3 linked regions of the Homo sapiens genome follow. The protein of the gene in region 1 interacts with the protein of each later gene in a pairwise test. Each region holds a gene or a part of one and is shown in the gene's direction. Other genes may lie near its edges.

Evidence for each region. Proteins that work in one complex are often made in the same cells at the same time.
Region 2: the proteins of NUP58 (region 1) and YRDC interact in binary tests that used the Homo sapiens proteins (3 or more experiments, as listed by UniProt).
Region 3: the proteins of NUP58 (region 1) and RGR interact in binary tests that used the Homo sapiens proteins (3 or more experiments, as listed by UniProt).

The regions. Positions count from the first base shown.
Region 1 is NC_000013.11:25,311,616-25,318,638, forward strand, and holds part of NUP58 (nucleoporin p58/p45), read left to right. Parts: intron 1-1,267; coding exon 1,268-1,417; intron 1,418-1,998; coding exon 1,999-2,136; intron 2,137-3,741; coding exon 3,742-3,852; intron 3,853-7,023. UniProt on the Homo sapiens protein: Component of the nuclear pore complex, a complex required for the trafficking across the nuclear membrane.
Region 2 is NC_000001.11:37,805,188-37,813,146, reverse strand, and holds the start of YRDC (threonylcarbamoyl-AMP synthase precursor), read left to right. Parts: upstream 1-4,938; 5' UTR 4,939-4,966; coding exon 4,967-5,355; exon of another isoform or gene 5,356-5,357; intron 5,358-5,931; coding exon 5,932-6,046; intron 6,047-6,170; coding exon 6,171-6,290; intron 6,291-7,959. Other genes in the region: uncharacterized protein C1orf122, read right to left, coding at 4,074-4,169, 4,415-4,616, 4,708-4,742. UniProt on the Homo sapiens protein: Cytoplasmic and mitochondrial threonylcarbamoyl-AMP synthase required for the formation of a threonylcarbamoyl group on adenosine at position 37 (t(6)A37) in tRNAs that read codons beginning with adenine.
Region 3 is NC_000010.11:84,248,051-84,255,073, forward strand, and holds part of RGR (RPE-retinal G protein-coupled receptor), read left to right. Parts: intron 1-859; coding exon of another isoform or gene 860-871; coding exon 872-993; intron 994-4,806; coding exon 4,807-4,960; intron 4,961-6,275; coding exon 6,276-6,393; intron 6,394-7,023. UniProt on the Homo sapiens protein: Receptor for all-trans- and 11-cis-retinal. Binds preferentially to the former and may catalyze the isomerization of the chromophore by a retinochrome-like mechanism.

The DNA.
Region 1 (7,023 bases):
CTGCCCACTTTGGCTTCCCAAAGTGCTGGGATTACAGACGTGAGCCACGGCACCTGTCTTTTTTTTTTTTTTTTTTTTTAAGGTAACCAAGATAATTTTAAGAATAGATTAGAGGTTAGAAGAGACTGATACCAGAGAAATAAATGCTGTTGTAGTAGTTCTTAAGAGAGATATGGCCTAAGCTAAGGTTTTTAAGGATGCTTGTAGTACAGGATATTTCTGAAGTAGGATCGACAGGATTTGTAACTAATGGAGTACAGGAGAAGGAAAGGATGTCAAGGATGACTGGTTTCTGGCTTAAGCAATTGAACTGAGCAAGGTTGGAGATATAGCAAAAAATGTTTGTGGTGAGATATGTAGGAGGCCAAAGGGACATCAAGATAGAACTAGACAATGAGGACTTAGGTAAATGTCAGTTTAGACTTAATCACCTGTAGGAGAAATGATGAAAGTGGGTGTGTCATTGGGGAAGTAAGGAGGTAGGAATGGAACTCTAGGAAGTGTCAGTTAAGACATGAACAGAGGAAAGAGAGCTACAGAAAAAAAGGACTGAAAAGGAATAGGGAGACAGCTGGGGGCTGACAGAGACACAAGGGCCAGAAGAAAGGAATAGAGAATGGTTATTGATAGAGTATTAGAGAGGAGGGACCATTTTTCTGCTGAGAGGGAAAGGAGGAGGATAAATGCTGCATTAGAGGTAAATCTAGGAGTAGAATAAAAATTGATATGTTACATCGATTGGATTTTCTTTTCTGTTTTTTTATTTTTTGAGACAGAGTCTCACTCTTGTCTCCCAGGCTGGAGTGCAGTGGCACGATTTCAGCTCACTGCAACCTCCCCCTCCCAGGTTCAAGTGACTCTCGTACCTCAGCCTCCCGAGTAGCTGGGGTTACAAGTGTGCACCACCACATTGAGCTAATTTTTGTATTTTAGCTAGAGGCAGGGTTTCACCGTGTTGGCCAGGCTGGTCTTGAACTCCTGACCTCAAGCAATCTGCCCATCTTGGCCTCCCAAAGTTTTGGGATCACAGGCGTGAGCCACTGTACCTGGCCATTCTTTTGTTTTTCTTAAAGAGCCATCTTTTTTGTGTTCACCATGGTTTAGTCTCAACTTTTACATATTTTCTCTCACAGATACACCCTTCTTCTATTGGCAAAAGGTAGTATCATGAACTTTTAAGGATCCTTATTGAAACCAGTATAATAGAACACTTACAGGTAAAGTAGGATTTTTGTTTGTTTGTTTATTCATTTATTTATTTAAATAGGAACGCCAGCCACTACATCTGCAGCTACAACAGGCTTCAGTTTAGGATTCAATAAACCTGCAGCATCTGCCACACCATTTGCTCTACCTATTACCTCTACCTCAGCTAGCGGTCTGACTCTTTCGTCTGCTCTGACATCAACTCCAGCAGGTGAGGCAGAATGAAAAACCGTTGCATTTAATGGTTAAATTTCAATTTTATCTGGTTAGAGAACATAGATAGTCACCTTACTACAGAAATTATTGATTTATAAAGAAGAAAATTCAGCTTTGAGCATTGAAGCAGGAGAGGCTGTCTTGATGTCCCTATTTAGAGAGCAAAGCAGGGGAGAGGGCTAGAGAGGTAAAATGTAAAGCTGTTAATATTGACTTTGTTTTGAAGGAGGCATTTAGTGACAGGGGAAGACAAAGACTTGGCATAAACCTTGCCTGGCTTATGATTCATTTAATATGAAGGTGAAGTTGGTGGCCTGGGTTGAAGACAATATTGCTATCTAGAATCAGTTACCTGGTACCATTCTAATACTCCTCAAAGCCCTTATTTCTGTCGCAGATTTTTGCTTTGAAGCTGCTATTTCTCTTTATTCTTAAGTATGTAATTTTTAGCAAGTAGTTCTTCCAAAGAGCCAATTTTATCATGGATGTCAGTTTTTAAAAACATCGTATTTGTATTTTTCTATGGTGCTGTTAAATAAGTTGCCTTTTGAAAGCTTACTATCTCTCTTTTTATAGCATCCACAGGATTTACTCTAAATAATTTGGGTGGGACAACAGCCACAACTACAACTGCATCAACAGGCCTCTCTTTAGGGGGAGCCTTAGCTGGTTTGGGAGGTTCACTTTTCCAGAGTACAAACACAGGAACATCAGGTAATTGATGGTATTTATTCTCCAGAATAGTAAATATTTATATTTAAATGTACTTATTTTTATTTTAGTACTTTGAGCAGGTCACTTTTTAATCTGCATATTTTCCTTTAAATATGAAAACTAAATTATAAAATGATGGTTTTCATACATAATTGGATGTATTAACCGTATTTTATTTATTTATTTATTTATTTTGAGATGGAGTCTTGCTCTGTCACCCAGGCTGGAGTGCAGTGGCGTGATCTTGGTTCACTGTAACCTCCACCTCCAGGGTTCAAGAGAGATTCTCCTGCCTCAGCCTCCTGAGTAGCTGGGATTACAGGTGTGTGCCAGCACACCTGGCTTATTTTTGTATTTTTAGTAGAGATGAGGGGGTTCACCATGTTGGCCAAGCTGGTCTCAAACTTCTGACCTCAAGTGATCCGGCTGCCTTGGCCTCCCAAAGTGCTGAGATTACAGGCGTAAGCCACCGCACCCAGCCTATTAGCCATATTTTAGAAATACATTTTCCTCTTTCTCAATATTGACTAACCAGATAAGGAAACAAAGAAGAGCCTGTTTAAGGAGTCAGTAAACTGATCTAGAGATAACATCTCTTCTAAAAAGAACAAAAATTGTATTAGCTCAGTAATGCATGGTCTTATAAAAGTATAGATTTATTAGGCTGGACACGGTGGCTCACACCTGTAATCCCAGCACTTTGGGAGGCCAAGGCAGGTGGGTCATCTGAGGTCAGGAGTTCGAGACCAGCCTGACCAACATGGTGAAACCGCATCTCTACTAAAAATACAAAATTAGCTGGGCATGGTGATGCATGCCTGTAATCCAAGCTGTTTGGGAGGCTGAGGCAGGACAATCACTTGAACCTGGGAGGCAGAGGTTGCAGTGAGCCGAGATCATGCCATTGCACTCCAGCCTGGGCAACAAGAGCGAAACTCCATCTCAAAAACAATAATAACAATAAAAAAGAAATACAGATTTATCAACACAAGATGCTTGAAATTTTGCGCTTGACTCACAAGTGTACGTTAATGACTTATGATTAACCGTAGTCTGGTCCTTTTTATTCCTTTTGTCAGTGAGGGAAGATGTAAATAAGCAAATGAATTCTAATACTTTTTTTTAAGTTTTGTGAAACGAACTTGGGAGTATGAAATTATATTCAATACATGTTATATTCAAATGTTATAAATTCACACTAGATTATCTTAAAAGTATGTAGTTCCAAAGTGTGTTTGTAAGACAAGATGTATTCACCTGAAAATACACCAACTGAAACTGCTTTTGTAGAGAGGGTTTAAAAGCCCTCTGTAACAAAACCCCTTTATAACAAGTGAAGATTGAGTGCCTACATACTGAATTGATATATGTTCTGGCCCTCGTAATAATGAAAAATCGCATCATCCAAACTGCATATGCCATCGAATTCAAGAAAGGTTATCAGTCTTTGGCCAAAACATCTCCAGGCTTGTTTCTTGTTGTTTGCCTAAATCAAATATGAAGAAAATCTAGGATCCAACTTTAAAAGCATTAGAGTCCTTTGATCAGTAAGGGGAAATTGTTGTAGTCTTTTGATGGAATTTATAAGTTATGTTTTATTTATAGGACTTGGACAGAATGCTTTAGGGTTGACTTTGGGAACTACAGCAGCTACTTCAACTGCAGGCAATGAAGGCCTTGGTGGTATAGATTTCAGTAGCTCCTCAGATAAAAAGAGTAAGTAATGCTGTTGTAACTTTATGTTTTAACAGTTCTGTTGAGGGAATGTCTAGGTTGCTCAAAATTCCTTTGTGTGGAAGATTAGCAGTTATATATTTAGTAGTAACAGTTAGCTATCTTAATGTGTATACGAATATGTATTTTTTAATAGGGATCATGATACATATGCAGTATTGTTTTGTAGTCTGTTCTTATCTAACATCAGAAGCATTTGTCTGTCAGTAACTCTTTTTAAATATTTTAATGCTGCTTAATATCAGTTTTATGGATGGATAAGTTAGTCAACCATTGTTCTCTTGTTAGATGTTTATTTCCAGATGTTTTACTTTGGGAAGTAAAACACTGGGCATTTATCTAAAAAGGCAACATAATATAGTAGTTTAAGAGTGTCTGCTCTGGAGTGGAATTGCCCGGGTTCAGATCCTGGCTCAACTGCTTATAAGCTCTCTGACCTTATTGAAGTTACTTATATTATGTGCTTTGGTTTTTCCTTATCTGTTAAATGGTTTGAGGGTTACTATTTGTAAAACCCTAGCAGAGCCAGACATGTAGGTGTCTCCTTTTATTATCAATGCTTGTTTATATTTTTGGTTATTTCTTAGGGAAAATACCTGGAAATTGGATCATTGGCTTAAAGAGAGGGATATTTTGGAGACTCTTAGTGTATAGTTTGTGAAATCGCTTTCCCAGAAAGATTTTACCAGTTTACCCCCTAACCAGTATGAAAATACCTTTCTTGCTGTGCCCTTGCCACGTTGAATCTTGGTTTTAAAAATTTGCTAATCCAAATTCATTTTGAAAATGTTTTCATTGTTTTTTGTGTTACTTTGTTTTGCACCATCTCTTCTGCTTCTGATGAAAGCATGTTTCACTAGAATATATACCATATATACTAGGGTATATATATACATATTGAACTTCTCTGAAGAAAGATAAATGGATGAAGCTGTGAAATAGTATCTGTGTATCTATATGACTTTTTTTTTAAAAAACTGGACACAGGTTTTATTATAAGGAGATACTATTCTAGGGTGAATTACTATTTTAAAGTTGGTAAAACCTTTTTAAACTTTTACAAAGTTTAGATTTCTCTTTCAGTGAAAATTGACAAATTTCTAAACAAAGTTTGTTTTTACTTAGTTTTCTCTGTAGCAACTCCATAATTAGGAAAGCAGCCTTAGCAGCTTATTTGTTTACTCAAGTGGAATAGCTTGGTACCACTTCTATTACTTTTATTTTAAGCATGAGAGTACTTCTCTATTATAATTGTTTTTAGGCTCAAAGAGCAGGCTAAGGCAGAAGAGTAAGATAAATGTAAGAAATTAATCTCCCCTCCTCTGCCCCTCCCCACATCTTCCTGCTTTCATAGTGTACCTAAGATAGAGTTGAGCAAGGAGAATATATACAATAAATGAAATAAATGTCTTAGATATGACATTAAATTTTATAAATATTTATGTACACACAAACATGTATATAAATAACTTGGGTGTGTTTCTACTATGGATCTCTGATTACTACATCCCAGTTCCCTTTTATCTATTGCTTATATCAAGGGATTCTTTTTTTTTAATCCAAATGATTTCTGTGTTTCTAGTAGCTGTATCAGTTAGCTTGGGCCCTGCAGTACCAGTGTGGGATTTAACCAGATAGAGAGTAGCAATAAACAGCATTCAGTGAAGAGGGGACAGCGTCAAGTGAGACTAGAGATGAGAAGGACCTTGACCCTTTTGAGGAAATGATAGAAGGCCAGATTAGCCATAGAGCAGAAAGATGAGGTTCCAGAAGTCATGGAGTCCTTATTTGCCATGTTGAGTTTTGTCATTATATTAATACCTCAGGCAATTTGGGTCTATTAAAGGGATTTGATGAGATTTGTATTTTAAGATTAAGAGCATTCTGACAGCCATATGGAAAATAGCATTCAGGAAGGCAAGAATTGTCATGGAGAACTGTTAGGAAGCTTTTGTAGAGCTCCACGTGTATTACTGAGGCAAAGCTAGGTAGATTAATTGGGGGTCCATGGTAATCAGGGATCCATGGTAGAAACAGGCTCAAGTTTTTTTTATATACATGTTTGTGTGTATGTAAGTATTTACAAAATATAATAAAATGTCATATCAAAGAAATAATATGCTAGTCAATTTAAAAGTTGGTGAATTATTTGGAGAAACATAAAATGAAATCCTTATTTTTATTTCCATGTCTCATAAAATCTAGGACGTCTATAGAAGATAGGTGGCAATTTTAGAGATACTAAATATGAAAGAAAAAAATCTTAATAAAATACAAAACATGGAAACATAAATTACAGTTGGATGAAAGAGGTAAAAAAGTAAAACCCCATGTGCAGAGGTAAAAGGTAAATGAGGAAAGTAAAATGCTTGATTTTTTTTTTTTTTTTTTTTTGGGATACAGTGACTTGCTGTGTCATGCAGGTTGGAATGCAGTGGTGTGATCTTACCTCACTGCAACCTCCACCTCCCTGGCTCAAGTGATTGTCCTACGTTAACCTCCTAAGTAGCTGGGACCACAAGTACGCAGCACCACGCCTAGCTAATTTTTAAAAAATTTTTTGGCCAGGCGCAGTGGCTCACGCCTGTAATCCCAGCACTTTGGGAGGCCGGGGCAGGTGGGTCATGAGGTCAGGAGATCAAGACCAGCCTGGCCAAGATGGTAAAACCCCGTCTCTACTAAAAATGCAAAAGCTAGCCGGGCACAGTGGCAGGCACCTGTAATCCCAGCTACTCGGGAAGCTGAGGCAGGAGAATTGCTTGAACCTGGGCAGCAGAGGTTGCAGTGAGCTGAGATCACGCCACTGCACTCCAGCCTGGGCACTAGAGTGAGACTCCGTCTCAGAAATAAAAAAAAAATTTGTAGCCACAGGGTTTTGCCCTGTTGCCCAGGCTGGTCTCCAATTCCTGGGTTCAAGCAGTCTGCCCAAAATGCTTGATTTTTAGGTGCTTATTTTTTCACATTTTAACATCTCTGAAATTGAGATACATCTTACAAGAGTCTAATATTAGAAATACATATTAAATTATGTAAATGAGACAAATAATATACTTAATGTTGAAATAGCTCTTAGAAATATATAAGAAAAATACCGTAAGAAAAGTGTGCAAATCACAAGTAAGCAGTTCATGAAAGAAGAAATATACTTGTCTC
Region 2 (7,959 bases), on another chromosome or scaffold:
CACCACGCCTGGCTAATTTTGTATTTTTAGTAGAGACGGGGTTTCTCCATGTTGGTCAGGCTGGTCTCGAACTCCCAACGTCAGGTGATCCTCCCGCCTCAGTCTCCCAAAGTGCTGGGATTACAGGTGTGAGCCACCATGCCTGGTCTAGGGAATTGACTTCTTTTTGACCTTCTGCACTCCCTTCCCCAAAAGGATTGTGGCTTCTGTTGACCATTGACCTCAGCAGAAGTTGATAAGGCAGGAGGTTTCCAGTCCTCCTGGAAAACCAACTGCTGAGCATGAGTTGTCCTTGGCTGTCTCTGGGCCTCGCACCCATGGGAAGTTTTGAGGTAGGGCCCTTGCTGTTTACAACTTCTGAGAGAGTAGTGATGGGACCCCAAAGTAAGCTTGTATCAGAGGGCAGTAATGACCTTCCCATATCCCCATCCTGTGGTCACCTGGGATTTGGGTTCCCTGGGGCGGAAGTGGGAAATAGGAGCCCAGGGAAGGACATCTGAAGCACCCACAGTTTAAATAGCGACTCTTCTTGGTTAGCCAGGGCTGTGCTCATGTTGGGCCCTACCCAGGTCAGTGGCCTTTTCACTCTCAAAGATCGGGGGTGACGAAGCAGCATCTTAAACAGTGTTTAGGCTGACAGATTTTTCCAGTTGAAGAAGCTGAAGTATCTGCCTTTTGAGGGTGACTCTAGATTACAAGAGAGACTATCAGATCCAATCAGCTTTTGAAAAATCAGGAATGTGCTTAAAATGCCAGTGAGTGGTTGTGAAGATCAGGTTTATTTCCCAGGATAGGCAGTCTTTCTTTCCCTCCTTTTCCAGTTCTCTTTTCCTACCTGTCCTTCCATAAGCCTGGTCTCTAGTGCCGAGGACCTTGGAGAAGAGAGGGCCCCTAGCTAAGCTGGAGCCAGAAAGAACCTTCATGGTGAGTGTGGTTTCCCAAACTTGGGAAATGAACCTAGGGTGAGGTTAGGGAGGATTTGTAGAATTCTAGCAGGTAAAAATCAAGCCTTTTTCCCCTCCCATAGTAAACTTAACCATTTTCACCCTGTACGTTATCTTCTAGCTCCTACTAACATCTCCAATTAGACAACCGCTTCAAAGGGTGCTTAGCACCAGGGATTGGGGTTCATGGACTTAGGAGGTGGTAAGGAAACTGGCTGGCACCACCAAACTGCCTTAGTGAACTTGGCCCTTCCCAGGCAGGTAGGTTGGGCATTGAGGGAAGGTGGCCCAGTCTTTGCTGGCAGGGTCTGGCCAGTCTCATGGGGGCACCACCAGTTTGGTGACAGAAGTGGTGTCATTTATTGAATTCCACCTCCGTTTAGAAGGAGATCATGGTACAAAGCCCAGGAGGGGCCTTAAGATGTGAAGATCTCTCTGAGTAAAAGGCAAGGGGCTTCTCTTCTTCACCTCTGGGATAGTTGGTAGATCGGAGAGTTTTATTTTCAGGGTCAAGGCTGTGGACTGATGGGGATATTGGAGGGTGGGTGGGTTTTCCTGAGAGACTTTGTATAATGCTGAATGTGTCCAGAGGGACAAGTTTGCAGAACCTCATATTGGTATATTAAAGAAATAATAAAATAAAAAAGCACTTTAGGTTATTTTATCTTTAACCCGATTGCTGCAATTTCTTTTGTGTGTATATATACATATATATACTTTCCACAAAGTTTTATTTTTTGCTCAGAATAAAAAGTTAAATTGAGGTGTGAAAAGAAAAGCACTTACCTTGGTGCAATATGTGTAGCTTGATGGTCGTTGTCCCATGTGGCCCTGGCCTGGCAGCGTTTTTCCGCTCAATCAGCCCTGTGCTGTGAGACTGTCCATAGGGAAACACTATTATGCATTCTCAGCAACCGCTCAATCTATGCAAGCCTTCCCTGTGTGCCCCAGGGCGCCCCCTCAGGCTCTCTGAAGAACTGCTGTGGGTCCTGTTTTCTGCTGACTGTTGAGGCCCTTTTTCATCACTTCTTGGTCTCTCGCCATCTTTTCCCTCTTCACCATTACAAAATGATGCCTGAAAGGAAGGAACAGATTGTTCCTAGGTAGAAACCTGGCACCTTCTAGACTTTTATATTTGTAATCACATCCATTGTCCTTAAAGACTTTTCCAGAGTGATTGAAACCATTGATTTGTGGAACTGCAACAATATTTCTCAAGAGTTTACAATTGTCTTACACCACCAATCAGAAATATGTTTGGGGAGGCATGGGTGGCAGGGGGCAACATGAGCCATTTCCATACTGCTCCCCATACTACCTGTGTTGGTTCCTTAAGCAAAAAGGCCTCCAGCCTTCATTAAATCCTATAAACAAACATTACATCCCATGAATCATTATCAACTTTCTTCCTTTACTCCACCTCCCCCATTTTATCTTCAATTCTCAGGCTATAGAATAGACAAGTTTTAGAATATACTTCAGCCAAAGCAGAAGGATTTTCATAGATCCAATATGCAAATAGTTCTGCTGTGACATAGATCAGAAATTGTCTGTTCCTTAATATTTGGGGGTGGAGGCAACAAAACTGAAGCATATTTCTGATTGGTTAGCCATTTTGGCCTGTTTCCTCTTGCATGTTTTTTAGGGAGAGAGGGAAACAGTCCTGTATTTCTTCTGATGCCCTTTGGGGAAGCCGACGACCACTGGGCATTTCTCACTGTTACTCCTGTTCAAGAGAGGGCTTCTCAGTCTGCACTGAAAAATGCAAATTAAACTGGATCTTTATGTCAATGTGTACATAGTACAAGCTTTTTTACTGGAATTGAGGTTTAAAACCACACACTGCCCTTTTGGTGGTGTGCCTGTTGGGCCAAAAATTGGGTGATAATGTAGTGTCACTTTCTCAGCTCAATGCAGTTTCTACTTTTTCTTATGGGAAAATTTTTCATAAAACCTTTTTGCACCAAAACCCAGGGGTGTTTTTTGCAATATCCTTGTTATCCTCGTAGTGTGCCAAGTCAGAGGCTTTCTCTTGCCCTTTTCCTGCTGTGTTCTCAGGCCTCCCAAGGGCTATTTGACTCAACAGTCTACATCCTTCGTTGTGTTTTGGAGAATGTGGGGGTGGGGGTCAGAGTTCAAGGTGTCTGTTCCCTTTTCCTGTGAACTCTTTCTAGTCCCTATTTGGGGAGGGTGGCTGGAAACAGATTTTTGCTGAATTTCTGGCTCAGATCTTCTAGCCAGGAAAGGCAAGAGCCCCCAAGAGCCCTTTTTTTTGACATACACTAATCATTGGCCGGGGTCTTGGTGACAACTTTTAAAATCCCAAATAGTTTTATTTGGATTATGTAAAAGTAAGTGTGAAACATGGGAACAACGGACTTCCACTGAGCGATGTGAAAACGTTACAGGTTCAGTACTTCCAAAGGAAGAAACCTCCAAACCCAAAAAAGAATAAATATGAATTTGTATTTTTGAAGAATGTGAAATAATGGTGTTTGCTTAATTGCTCATTTTGTATAAACTTAATATTGTACTTTAAAATATCTGCTAAAAAGTGAAAATTTAACTTTTTGGAATTGAAAAAGCAATATTAAATACTAATGAAATCCTAATTAAATGCTTATTTAAATCTGGTAGTATCTGTGGCATTTCTTACCAACCCTGCCCATAGTTGACATTTTTCCACCACTCCCCCCTTCCCAGCCATCAGTCTTGGAGAGGGGACAGAAAGGAAACGTCGGTCACCAGGAGAGTCTGCAGGTTTCCTTTTAATCAAGGCTCTACTGAAGGTGTTTTGTGGGGCTAAAAGCCCCCAAAACATGAAATGGACATGTAACACCACCTGGATCCCCCATAGCAGGCCAGACCACTCTGGCGAGCACTGCTGGTCTGCCCAAATCTGGGTAATCAGACTGGGTATTCATTGGCTGCATTTCAAAGCACAGCACTGCTTTCAGCCAGGATGAAGTGGGAGTGAACCCAGCTGCTAGCAGAGCTGCCACTCCAGGCTGAGAGCCAAGTACCAGCCACTGCCAGTGAAGACTGGCCCCTTTACTGAAGGGAGTTGTTCAGAGTCCAGCCACCGGCCCTGGGGAGGGAGAGAAGTCAGGGTATTCTGCTCGGGGATGGTCAGGGCTCCGCAGCTCCATCGCCAGCATCCTTTGGAAAGCCGCCTCTGGCGGAGACAGCCGGCTGGGGGGGCGCTCCAGGTTTGGCTGAGACGTTCTAGTTGGAACAGAAAGGAAAAAAGTGAGGCTGGGAGGCAAGGCCTTGGATTAGGCCCCACAAGGATGTGGCCATTTGGCATTTGGATAGTATTAACTTTTTCGAAACCTCTCACCAGATCAAAGGAGGTTAGGGATAAAGCGGCGGAGACATACTTCCCCCCTCCAGGGTAAGCTAGGGCTTGGCCAGCCTAGCCAGTGGGCAGACCCCACCCCACCCCAGCCCAGCCCAGGGTGGGCACTAACCCCGCCACCAGCCGGCTCCGGGCGCCGGCGGCCCAGCTGCCGTAACATCTCCTCGCAGGCTGCGATGGTGTCCAGGAGCTGCCGCTGCCGCTGCTCCACCGCGTCCAGCAGCTGCTGGGCGCGCTCCTCCCGGGGCGGCTGTGGGGGTGGCCTCCCGCCGAGCCCCAGCCCCGCCTTCCCGCGGTCCACGCCGGCAGCCTCCCTGCCCGGGAGAGAGCGAGAGACAGACGGTCAGGGCCGGCGCTTGCGCGGGGCCAAGCCCCTTCCTCCCGCCCCGACGGGCCCCCTCTCACCCCCGTGACCAGTCTGAGCCCGGGCCCCATTCCATCTCCGCTTGCGCGGCCCGACCACCGCCCCCCTTTCGGCCGCCCCCCTCCCCAGCGCTGCGTTAGGGCTTCGCAAGGCTGCGCCCCGCCCCGTCCCCACCGGTCTCCTTCAATCCTCCTGGGGGTCGTGGTCCCTTTAAGCTGCCCGGCGCAGAGGCGGGGCCGAGTCTCCTGGACCGGAAGCTGGCTGGGAGCGTCACTTCCTCCCGGAAGCGGGCCTGGGCGGATGTCTCCGGCGCGTCGGTGCAGGGGGATGAGGGCCGCGGTGGCTGCCAGCGTGGGGTTGAGCGAGGGGCCTGCTGGCTCCCGGAGCGGTCGCCTCTTCCGCCCGCCGAGTCCCGCTCCGGCGGCCCCCGGCGCCCGGCTGTTGCGGCTCCCGGGGAGCGGGGCCGTGCAGGCCGCGAGCCCGGAGCGCGCCGGCTGGACCGAGGCGCTGCGGGCCGCCGTGGCCGAGCTGCGCGCCGGCGCCGTGGTGGCCGTCCCCACCGATACGCTGTACGGCCTGGCCTGCGCGGCGAGCTGCTCGGCGGCTCTGCGCGCTGTGTACCGCCTCAAGGGTCGCAGCGAGGCCAAGCCTCTGGCCGTATGCCTCGGCCGCGTGGCCGACGTCTACAGGTAAGGCCGCCCCGACCCGGCCCCGCTAGGGGCGGCACCGCGGGAGGGGTTTCCGGTGACAGGCTTGGGAGACTGAGGCGCAGAGAGCGGGAGGGGCTTGTCCAGGCTCACCAAGGAATCCGGAACTGGAAATATGTACCGAGGACTTAACGTGCCCCGGGCCCTGAACTACATGCTGCTGGGAAGCAGCAACACACGAGAAAGGCAGGGACCCTGTTCCCTTGGCGTATTTGTGCTAATTGGGGAGGCCCCCGGGAAAAAAGCAAACAAACACAGTAGCTTAATTTAATAGCGAATGCCTTGAAGAAAATAAAACGTGGAGCTTGATCCCACTATCATGATATCACAGCGGTGCAGCTGTTGTAGTCCCTGAGACCAGAGGCACATGGGCGTCAAGCCAGGGGTGCGCCTCTGGAGCCCTGCTTTCTGCTCAAGCTCTTAGGGAGGTGAAGCAGGGAGACAGGCGGCTCCCATTGTAAACTCGAAGGATTCCTTTTCTACGTCTGCCTAGAGTCTAGGAAAGGACCACCAGTGGCCCTTCAATTTTGAATGGATTTATTCTTCTGTGTTTCCCAGATACTGCCGTGTGAGAGTACCTGAGGGGCTCCTGAAAGACCTACTGCCAGGACCAGTGACCCTGGTGATGGAACGCTCGGAGGAGCTCAACAAGGACCTAAACCCTTTTACGCCTGTGAGTCAAGTTTTCTCTTGTGTCCCCAGACTCCAGGCCACTTGGCTTTCACTAGGATCCAGATAAGACTTACCCTCTTATCCCTTCCAACCTTTCTCATGATCCCTTTCCCCTTGCCTTACAGCTTGTAGGCATTCGGATTCCTGATCATGCTTTTATGCAAGACTTGGCTCAGATGTTTGAGGGTCCGCTTGCTCTCACTAGTGCCAACCTCAGCTCCCAGGCCAGTTCTCTGAATGTCGAGGTGAGTTTACCCAGTCCTTCCCCTGGAAATGTCACCAGCGCACATACTGTTTTCTGTGAATCAGTGGCATTGATAGTACACTGGGATGGCCAGGCATGAGAGTTCTTGGGCCAACAGTGGGAAGGTTGCCCAGCTGGCAGGGAGGTGGTGGGGGGCAATATAAATTAAAAAAATTTGAAAGATTTTATCTCAAAGTCTGAAAAGCCAGGGGGAGAATTGGTCTTTTCTTCAGTCTTTATAATAATAGGAAAGATTATAAGAACAATGTCTTCCTGTTTTTCTGGAGATAACAGTTTCTGGAGAACACAGTTAGGCTATAAATCTTCACGACAGTGCTGTAAAGAAAGATGAAGAAGGCCAAGGGCAGTGGCTCATGCCTGTGACCCCAGCACTTTGGGAGGCCCAAGCAGGTGGATCATGTGAGGTCAGGAGTTTGAGACCAGCCTGGCTAACATGGCAAAACTCCATCTCTAATAAAAAATACAAAGATTAGCCAGACATGGTGGCGCATGCCTGTAATCCCAGCTACTTGGGAGGCTGAGGCAGGAGAATCACTTGAACCTGGGAGGCAGAGGTTACAGTGAGCTCAGATTGTGCCACTGTACTCCAGGCAGGGCTCTAGAGCGAGACTCTGTCTCTTAAAAAAAAAAAAAAAGATGAAGTTTAGCCTCCAGAAAGTTAAATCACTTGTTCCAGGTCACACAGCCATTAAGTGACTGACTCAGATTTTTAACCAGTTTTTGATTCTCGCCCCTGTTCTCTTATCTCTGCCACAAGCCAGATCAAAGAAAGGATCATCCTAATCCTTTCTTGGCTACATAGATTAGAACAAAGGAGGACACATAGAAATTTCGTTTTTTTTCTTATTACTAAGATGTAAAACGTAGTAATAAGCTACATTGTGTCCCCAGACTCGGCCAGACACATAGTATCACACATAGTATCCAGCATCAGGCCTTGGGCCTTCCTTGGGCTTATTACATCCAGCTAATAAGCCTGGATAGAGTAACTTGCGTGCAGTCACATAGAGATACGATGGAAAGTCCAGAGTTAGAGCCCGTATCCCTGCTCAGAACTCCATTCGATGGGTTTTCCATTCCCAGACCTAGAGTGGGGCTCAGGGTTCTTAGAAAGTGAGAGTTCAGCATCCCTTCCCATTCTCAGAGTGCAGGTTTGACTTGGTCCTGGTGGCTGTACCCCAGGAGCAAGAATCGGGATGTGGCACAGGGAGGGGAGGTTTTTACCTTGTCAGCAATCATTTGACCTGTCCAACACAGTAACTGGTATTTATGATTTCCTGTCCCAGATTTCCAGGCCTAACTGCCACTGCAGTGTCTTCCTTGGGGGGTTGGGGAAGCTCTAGCTCAGTTAACAATTCAGTCCACTGCTCTAGGGGGAGTATCCTTCTCATAGCCCAAAGACTGAGTGCTGGTGGCATGCAGAATCTACCATGTTCTACTCTTCCTACCCTGATCAGAGTCGCAGTGAGATCCAGGAGCATAGTTCTAGAGCTAGAAGGAGCTGGAATCACTTGTTCCAGGTTACGCAGCCATTAAGTGACCAGATTTTTACCTAGTTTTTTTTTGTTTTGTTTTGTTTGAGACAGTCTCACTCTCTTGCCCAGGCTGGAGTGCAGTGGCACCATCTCAGCTCACTGCAACCTCCATCT
Region 3 (7,023 bases), on another chromosome or scaffold:
TCTTCCATAAATCGGATATTATTTCCTAACTCATATAGGTGGTTGGAAGTATTTACTTCTATTATGTGTAAATAACTTAAAATAATGCTTGATACCTAGGACTCTACGTAAGTGTTTGTGAACACAAATGGGGGCGTTATCACCACTACTGCACCCGTATGTATCTGGGCTCCTGGAGTGGAGGGACACCGATGCAGTGTGGAGAGGATAAGAGGCAGGGAGGGGCAGTCATAACTAGCTAGTGTCTAATACCTCCTTATACAAAAACCAGGGTCTTCCATCACAGCTTCAGAAGGTGTTTATAAAATTGTTTTCTGAAGCAGACTGGACATTCTCATTCTGGTTTTGGACACTACAGACGGAGGCTGGAGCCCCCCCGGATGTGCATGCTCAGTGCTGACCAGCCTGGGGGGTCTGCATCAGTGAGAACTCTTCCTCCCACAGAGAATTGAAGTTTCCACCTTTGCTTGCCCTTTTAGGCTGGGGAGGCCTGGGATCTCCCCTCTGACTTTGCCTTCATCTTCTGTGTGACCTTGGCTTCAGTATCTTTGCCTCTTTGAATGTCAGTTTCCCCACCTATCAAATACAGGCATGAGCTCTCCTGTGACAGAGGGATCTGATCACGCAGAGAGAGCCTATGGCCCAACCATGGTGCAGTCAAAGTCACCCAGCCTGGAGAGTGTGCATTGGGCTCCACCCCTTCAGCCCAGTTACTTGAGCTCCAACGCCTCATAGGAAAGACACCAATATTAAGGCCCTCTTCAGAGAAGAAGGGCAGCATTCAGGAACACACACTCCAAGCTGTACTTGGCAGGTGTGGGAGGTGGAAAGGATCGGAGGAGAGGTCACTGGTGCCCAGTGTCTCCCACAGGCGCTGGCCCTACGGCTCGGACGGCTGCCAGGCTCACGGCTTCCAGGGCTTTGTGACAGCGTTGGCCAGCATCTGCAGCAGTGCAGCCATCGCATGGGGGCGTTATCACCACTACTGCACCCGTATGTATCTGGGCTCCTGGAGTGGAGGGACACCGATGCAGTGTGGAGAGGATAAGAGGCAGGGAGGGGCAGTCATAACTAGCTACTGCTCCGTGTTTCCCAGTACAGGGAAGTGTGGGTAGGTGTGAGTGTGCATGCATAGGCACTCATTTCAGGAAAGGAGGGAGGGTGGGAGAGTGTGCAGGAGAGCTGTTGGGCCTCTCTTGCCATTACCGCAACCTTGGGCAAGTCAGGGATCCTCTCTGAACCTTAGTCTCCTCCTCTGCGAAATGATTTTCTTTTTCTTTTTGAGACGGAATCGCTCTATTGCCCAGGCTGGAGTGCAGTGGTGTGACCTCGGCTCACTGCAACCTCGGCCTTCTGGTTTCAAGTGATTCTTTTGCCTCAGCCTCCTGAGTAGCTGGGACTACAGGCATGTGCCACCACACCTGGCTAATTTTTGTATTTTTAGTAGAGATGGGGTTTCACCATATTGGCTAGGCTGGTCTTGAACTCCTGACCTCGTGATCTACCCACCTCAGCCTCCCAAAGTGCTGGGATTACAGGCGTGAGCCACCGTACCCGGCTGAGATGATTTTAATAACCAATCTCAGTTTTATTTTGAAAATGAAATGAGATCAGGGATACAGAAAATGCCCTTGCAGACAGGCACTACTCTGCAGACAGGCGCAGAGAGGCTGTGTGTATGTGTGTGTAGCTGGGCATGTGCCCTGGCACCCCACACTTCCATGAGGCTTCATGAAAACTGTCCAGCTCTAGATTTCACAAGCTGCACTGTCAAATACCATCTTCATAATTGGCCATATCAGTGTACAAACTGCTCCATTTTTCCTTAATTTTTTTTTTCTTAAAAGTGACTCATTTTTTAAAATGTAAACACCTGCTACAAGCTCATTCTAAACAACATCTGGGAAATCACAGGTTTAATGTTCTTATAATTTTAATACAATTAAAATAAAAACCTGTTCACCAGAGACCATCTAGAACCCTGTTTACCACCAGGGGTACATAAACATGTTTTGGGGAGCTGTGGCTCAGCTAACCCTCCTAGCAAACCTTCAGCTCACAGCCTCGGAAGCAGAGGCACAGAGAAGTTAAGCAGCTTGCCTCGCTACTAAGGGCAGAGCCAGCACTGGGCATGACCTGGTACCTCCAAGTCCTGAGCTATGAATTTGTCCAGCACAGAGGCTGCTGTGAGGTCTATAGCCAGCACAGCCTCAAACCATGGCATGTCCTCTTTGGAATCCACAGAACTTCCCTTGCCATAGTCACATGTATAGCCCCCTTCCCTGAAAATTCACTGCCCCTCATGGGTCTCTCCTGTCATATGCCTCTCTCCAGGCCAAAATGCTGCCATCGGTCTCATCATTTTGAGTGGCGATAGGTTAGCCCTCTTGTCCACTTGGCCTCAGAGCACTTCTCCCACTCCTTACATCCCAGCCCCTGCCCCTAATGCTCCCTTGGACCATCTTATACACACACACACACACACACACACACACACACACACACCACCTTCTCAGATAGCAACAGGCTTCTCTGCCTCAATATAGAACAGTTAATCCCTGTGCCAGAGGCCTTAGATCAAAGCCCTTTCTATACTGAGAGCATGGCAGAGCAGTGTGAAGGCAGGCAAAGGGGAATGAGGAGGTCTGAATTCATCTACTCCATCCCTGGGTGGTTGTAGGCATGTCACCTTGGCCATCTGTTTCTAAAGCTGAAAGTCTGAGGCAGCACAATGGTCCAGGTAGATATTAATTATTGTGCCCACAGAGAATTGTTTGAACCTGGAAGGCAGAGGTTGCAGTGAGCTGAGATGGCACCACTGCACTCCAGCCTGGGCAACAGAATGAGACTCCGCCTCAATAAAAAAAAAAAAAAAAAGAAGAAGAAGAAGAAGAAAAGAAAAGGCCAGGCATGGTGGCTTATGCCTGTAATCCCAACACTTTGGGAGGCTGAGGTGGGCAGATAACTTGAGGTCAGGAGTTCGAGACCAGCCTGGCCAACATGGTGAAACCCCATCTCTACTAAAAATACAAGAATTAGCTGGGCATGGTGGCATGAGCTTGTAATCCCAGCTACTTGAGAGGCTGAGGAAGGAGAATCGCTTGAACCTGGGAGGTGGAAGTTGCAGTGAGCCGAGATCACGCCACTGCACTCCAGCCTGGGTGACACAGCAAGACTCTGTCTCAAAAATTTTTTTAAAAAAAGACAGGAAGAACTGACATCTTAACTATATTGAGTCTTCCTGTCCTTGCACGTAATTATCGTGCCCACAGTTGGGATGGGAGGTGTCTTAGTCTGCCCAGGCTCCTATAATAGAATGCCATCGACTCGGTGGCTTGAACAATAGAAATTTATTTCTCAGTTATTCAGGCTGGGAAGTCCAAATGCGAGGTGTCAGCATGGTCAGGTTCGGTGAGGGCTTGATTCTTGGTTTATAGATGTTCACCTTCTTGCCATGTCCTCACATTAAAAGAGAGAGATTGTCACTCTTGTGTTCCTTCTTTCATTTTTTTGAAACAGAGTCTCACTCTATTGCCCAGGCTAGAATGTAGTGGCACCATCTCAGTACACTGCAACCTCCGCCTTCTGGGTTCAAGCAATTCTCCACCTCAGTCTCCTGACTAGCTGGGACTACTGGCGCATGCAGCATGTCCAGCTAATTGTGTCCCTTCTTATAAGGGCACTAATCACATCATGGGGGCTCCACCCTTATGGCCTAGTTATCTCCCAAAGGCCCCACCTCCAAATGCCATCACATTGGGGATTAGGGCTTCAACATATAAATTTGAGGGGACACAAACATTCAGTTCATATCAGAAGGTCACATCCAAGCAAACTCCATCTGGAGCCGTATCAGTAGAAGCAAACTGTCAGATGAGGGAGGTTGTAGACATGCTCTTCTCTCCCGATCAAAACCCATCTGGAGAACTGTCCTCTGCCCTGGTATCTTATATACAAAGGAGTATGACAAAAAAACAGTAGACAGAGGAGGGCACCTGGGAAGTGCATCCTGAAGCCAGATCCAGGAGGAACCACTGAATGGGAAGGACCCAATGACACTGCAGCAGAGAGGGGGGCTTCAGGGAAGGGACTAGAGGAGGTCAAATCAGCATGGCTGGTTCATATCAAAAGATGCTGCTGGGACCCAGCCTCTGCCATTGGCACTGAGATTGAGCCCCAACCCCCGAGTCAAGCATTCTCAGAGGGTGTCCTGGAAGCAGGGGCAGTGGCCTGATTCTGAGCAAGTGCTGAGGATGGTGGTAAGTCCAGACTTCTGCCTCCATCCCCTATGACCCTCACCTGAACCCCTGCCTATGCTTCTTCCTGAACTTTGTCTCTGAAAACGTATCTGTCTCTTTGCCACTCCCTCGTCTCTGTCCTCTGAAGAAGATGGTATAGTGTGTCTATTTGGAGACCTTCACCATCCATTATCTATTTCATTCTTCATAACAATCCTCTGAGGCAAGGATTATCATTCCCATTGTGGGCGAGAATACTGGGGCTCAAAGAAGCTCTTCACTTGCCTGAGGCTCTGAGTTATTAAGCATCAGAGCTGGGGTTCTCATTTTGGTGAGTTGCTTAGTTAACCCCTCTCTCAGCCTCAATTTTTTAGACCGTAACACAGGGATAAGAAAACCTCCTTCTGGCAGGATGTAGTGGCTCAATCCTGTAATCCCAGCACTTTGGGAGACTGAGGCTGGTGGATCACTTGAAGGGACACTCTTCGAGATCAGGAAGTCCATTCTTTCTCACTCTATCAGGCCATCTCCTCCTCACAACCTCCTCTTCTTCCTCTGTCCTGTGCAGGTAGCCAGCTGGCCTGGAACTCAGCCGTCTCTCTGGTGCTCTTCGTGTGGCTGTCTTCTGCCTTCTGGGCAGCTCTGCCCCTTCTGGGTTGGGGTCACTACGACTATGAGCCACTGGGGACATGCTGCACCCTGGACTACTCCAAGGGGGACAGGTGAGGTGGGAGGAGCAGCTTCGAGGCTCCTATCCATGGGAATCTTGGCTTTGAACTCCTATGACAAGGGTGCCCCAGCTGAAAATCCAAATGGGGAAATGTCAACGTTTGCCAGACAATCTCAACTTCTTAATCATGATACCCACCTGCAGGTGGACAGTGGGACTGGAAAAAGCCTGTTCTGAAAACTGGCCAGGTGATGGGAATGCTGTGAAAATTGGGACCCAGAGTTGAACCCAAAAAGAGACATCATACAGGGAGCCATTGGCTTGTGTCAGTGGTAACAGTCACCAAGCCGCACCACCTCTTAGCCATCTTCAGCACAGTCGACCATCATGGCTCTGACCTCATCAATTTCTAGAGGGAGCCACGCCCTTGGTACAATAGATTCAAAGAACATTAAGGTCCTTGCATTGGGAGGGAATGCCCTGAGCATACGCTATGAGGCAATCCCTGGAGAAATAGGACAGAATGCATGAGGGTCCCCACCCTCATGGGGCTCGTGTTCTGGTACTGCCCCATCAGGAGGCTCTAGGGAGACAAGGGCTTAGGGGGATCCTTTAGGAACTGCCTTGAGGAATGGTCACATGGGCTCCAGCCCCTCTTGCTTCCACCAGAGCCAAGTTGCATTCATCTGCTTTACCCATGGTGTTTAATCATGAGGCATCTGCACTGGATGACAGGCTTTCCAGGTGATGCATTCTTGAGAACGCTGGGCCTGGTCCAAGTGTCCCTCCATGGCACTCCCCAGCCAGGGTCCAGTCCTTCCAGCTGCCCCTCCCTGGTGGACGGCTCCAAGGTGACATAGTCTTCCCTTCAGAAAATGGGAATCTGTCTCCCTGGGACTCCCACTATTCCCTTCACCTCCCCATGACCACTACCTGGGAACCCAAGCTCTTCTGTGGTGCCTTCAACCATTTCTTCAGTGACACAGTATCCAGTCTTCTTGTTATCCCGTCTCCTTTTAAAACCTTTGGGCCTAGAATGCTCCTTGAATGTTCCTTTCTCTTGGCCCACTGACATCCCCACCATTGGGTGAACATGTTTCCCAAACTAAAATTTCCCATTCTTCATGCTTGGGGGACAAACAGGAAAGCAGGGCTGAGCACTTGAACAAGAAAGAGGCCTCTTCCTCCTTGTAGCTCCCTGGCTCCTAAAGGGAGTTCACCTGGGACCCGGGAGCAACCACACTGCGAGCTTGTCTGAATGGGGCATTTCCCCACAACCGATCATCTAGGGCAGAGCTGGTGGGTCCTTGAGGGCAGCTGGCCATCCCTGAGAGCTAACCCCAATCCTCCACCCGCTCTCCCTGTAGAAACTTCACCAGCTTCCTCTTCACCATGTCCTTCTTCAACTTCGCCATGCCCCTCTTCATCACGATCACTTCCTACAGTCTCATGGAGCAGAAACTGGGGAAGAGTGGCCATCTCCAGGTAAGGACCCCCTTCCGGAGTGTTATCTGATGGTGCAGCGCAGCTCCAGGCTCTTGGTGTCCCGAACAAAGAATTGGATGTGACACACACAAACAGCAAAACAAATATTCATTGCTTTTGCAGCAAAAGCTTATTCAGCACAGTATTACACTCTCAGAGAGGGGAGGGTGGACCAATCTCTGCGAAGTGAGATCAGCACCAGTTTGGTGTATTTTGGGCTCTTTTATATGTTTATTTTTCTTCTCTTCCCAAGGCTGCCTAATCTCTAGCCAGCATCTGCCTTTTGATTGATAGGTGGGTTGCTTATGTTACTTTGGCCCTTGTGTGCTTGCCTGTCACCTCCATCCCATAATCTTAAGTACATGCATGATATGCAGTCCATATGCATCAGCTTTAATAAGCTTATTATCATACGGGGTCATTTTAAGGATACTTTTTCTCTCTAATGCACATGCGCATCTCTGAGGAGCTGCCCCTGACAGGTTTGGTCCAGACCTAGCTGGCCACAGGAGCTTCTTACTCACTTTTTAATCTTATTTGTGTTTTGGTTGCTCAACTTCTGTTTCTTGTCTTGCTTCTTGCTCACTGCCTCTTCACCTTGCTTCTGCTTCTACTCATTCCGCCCTTTAA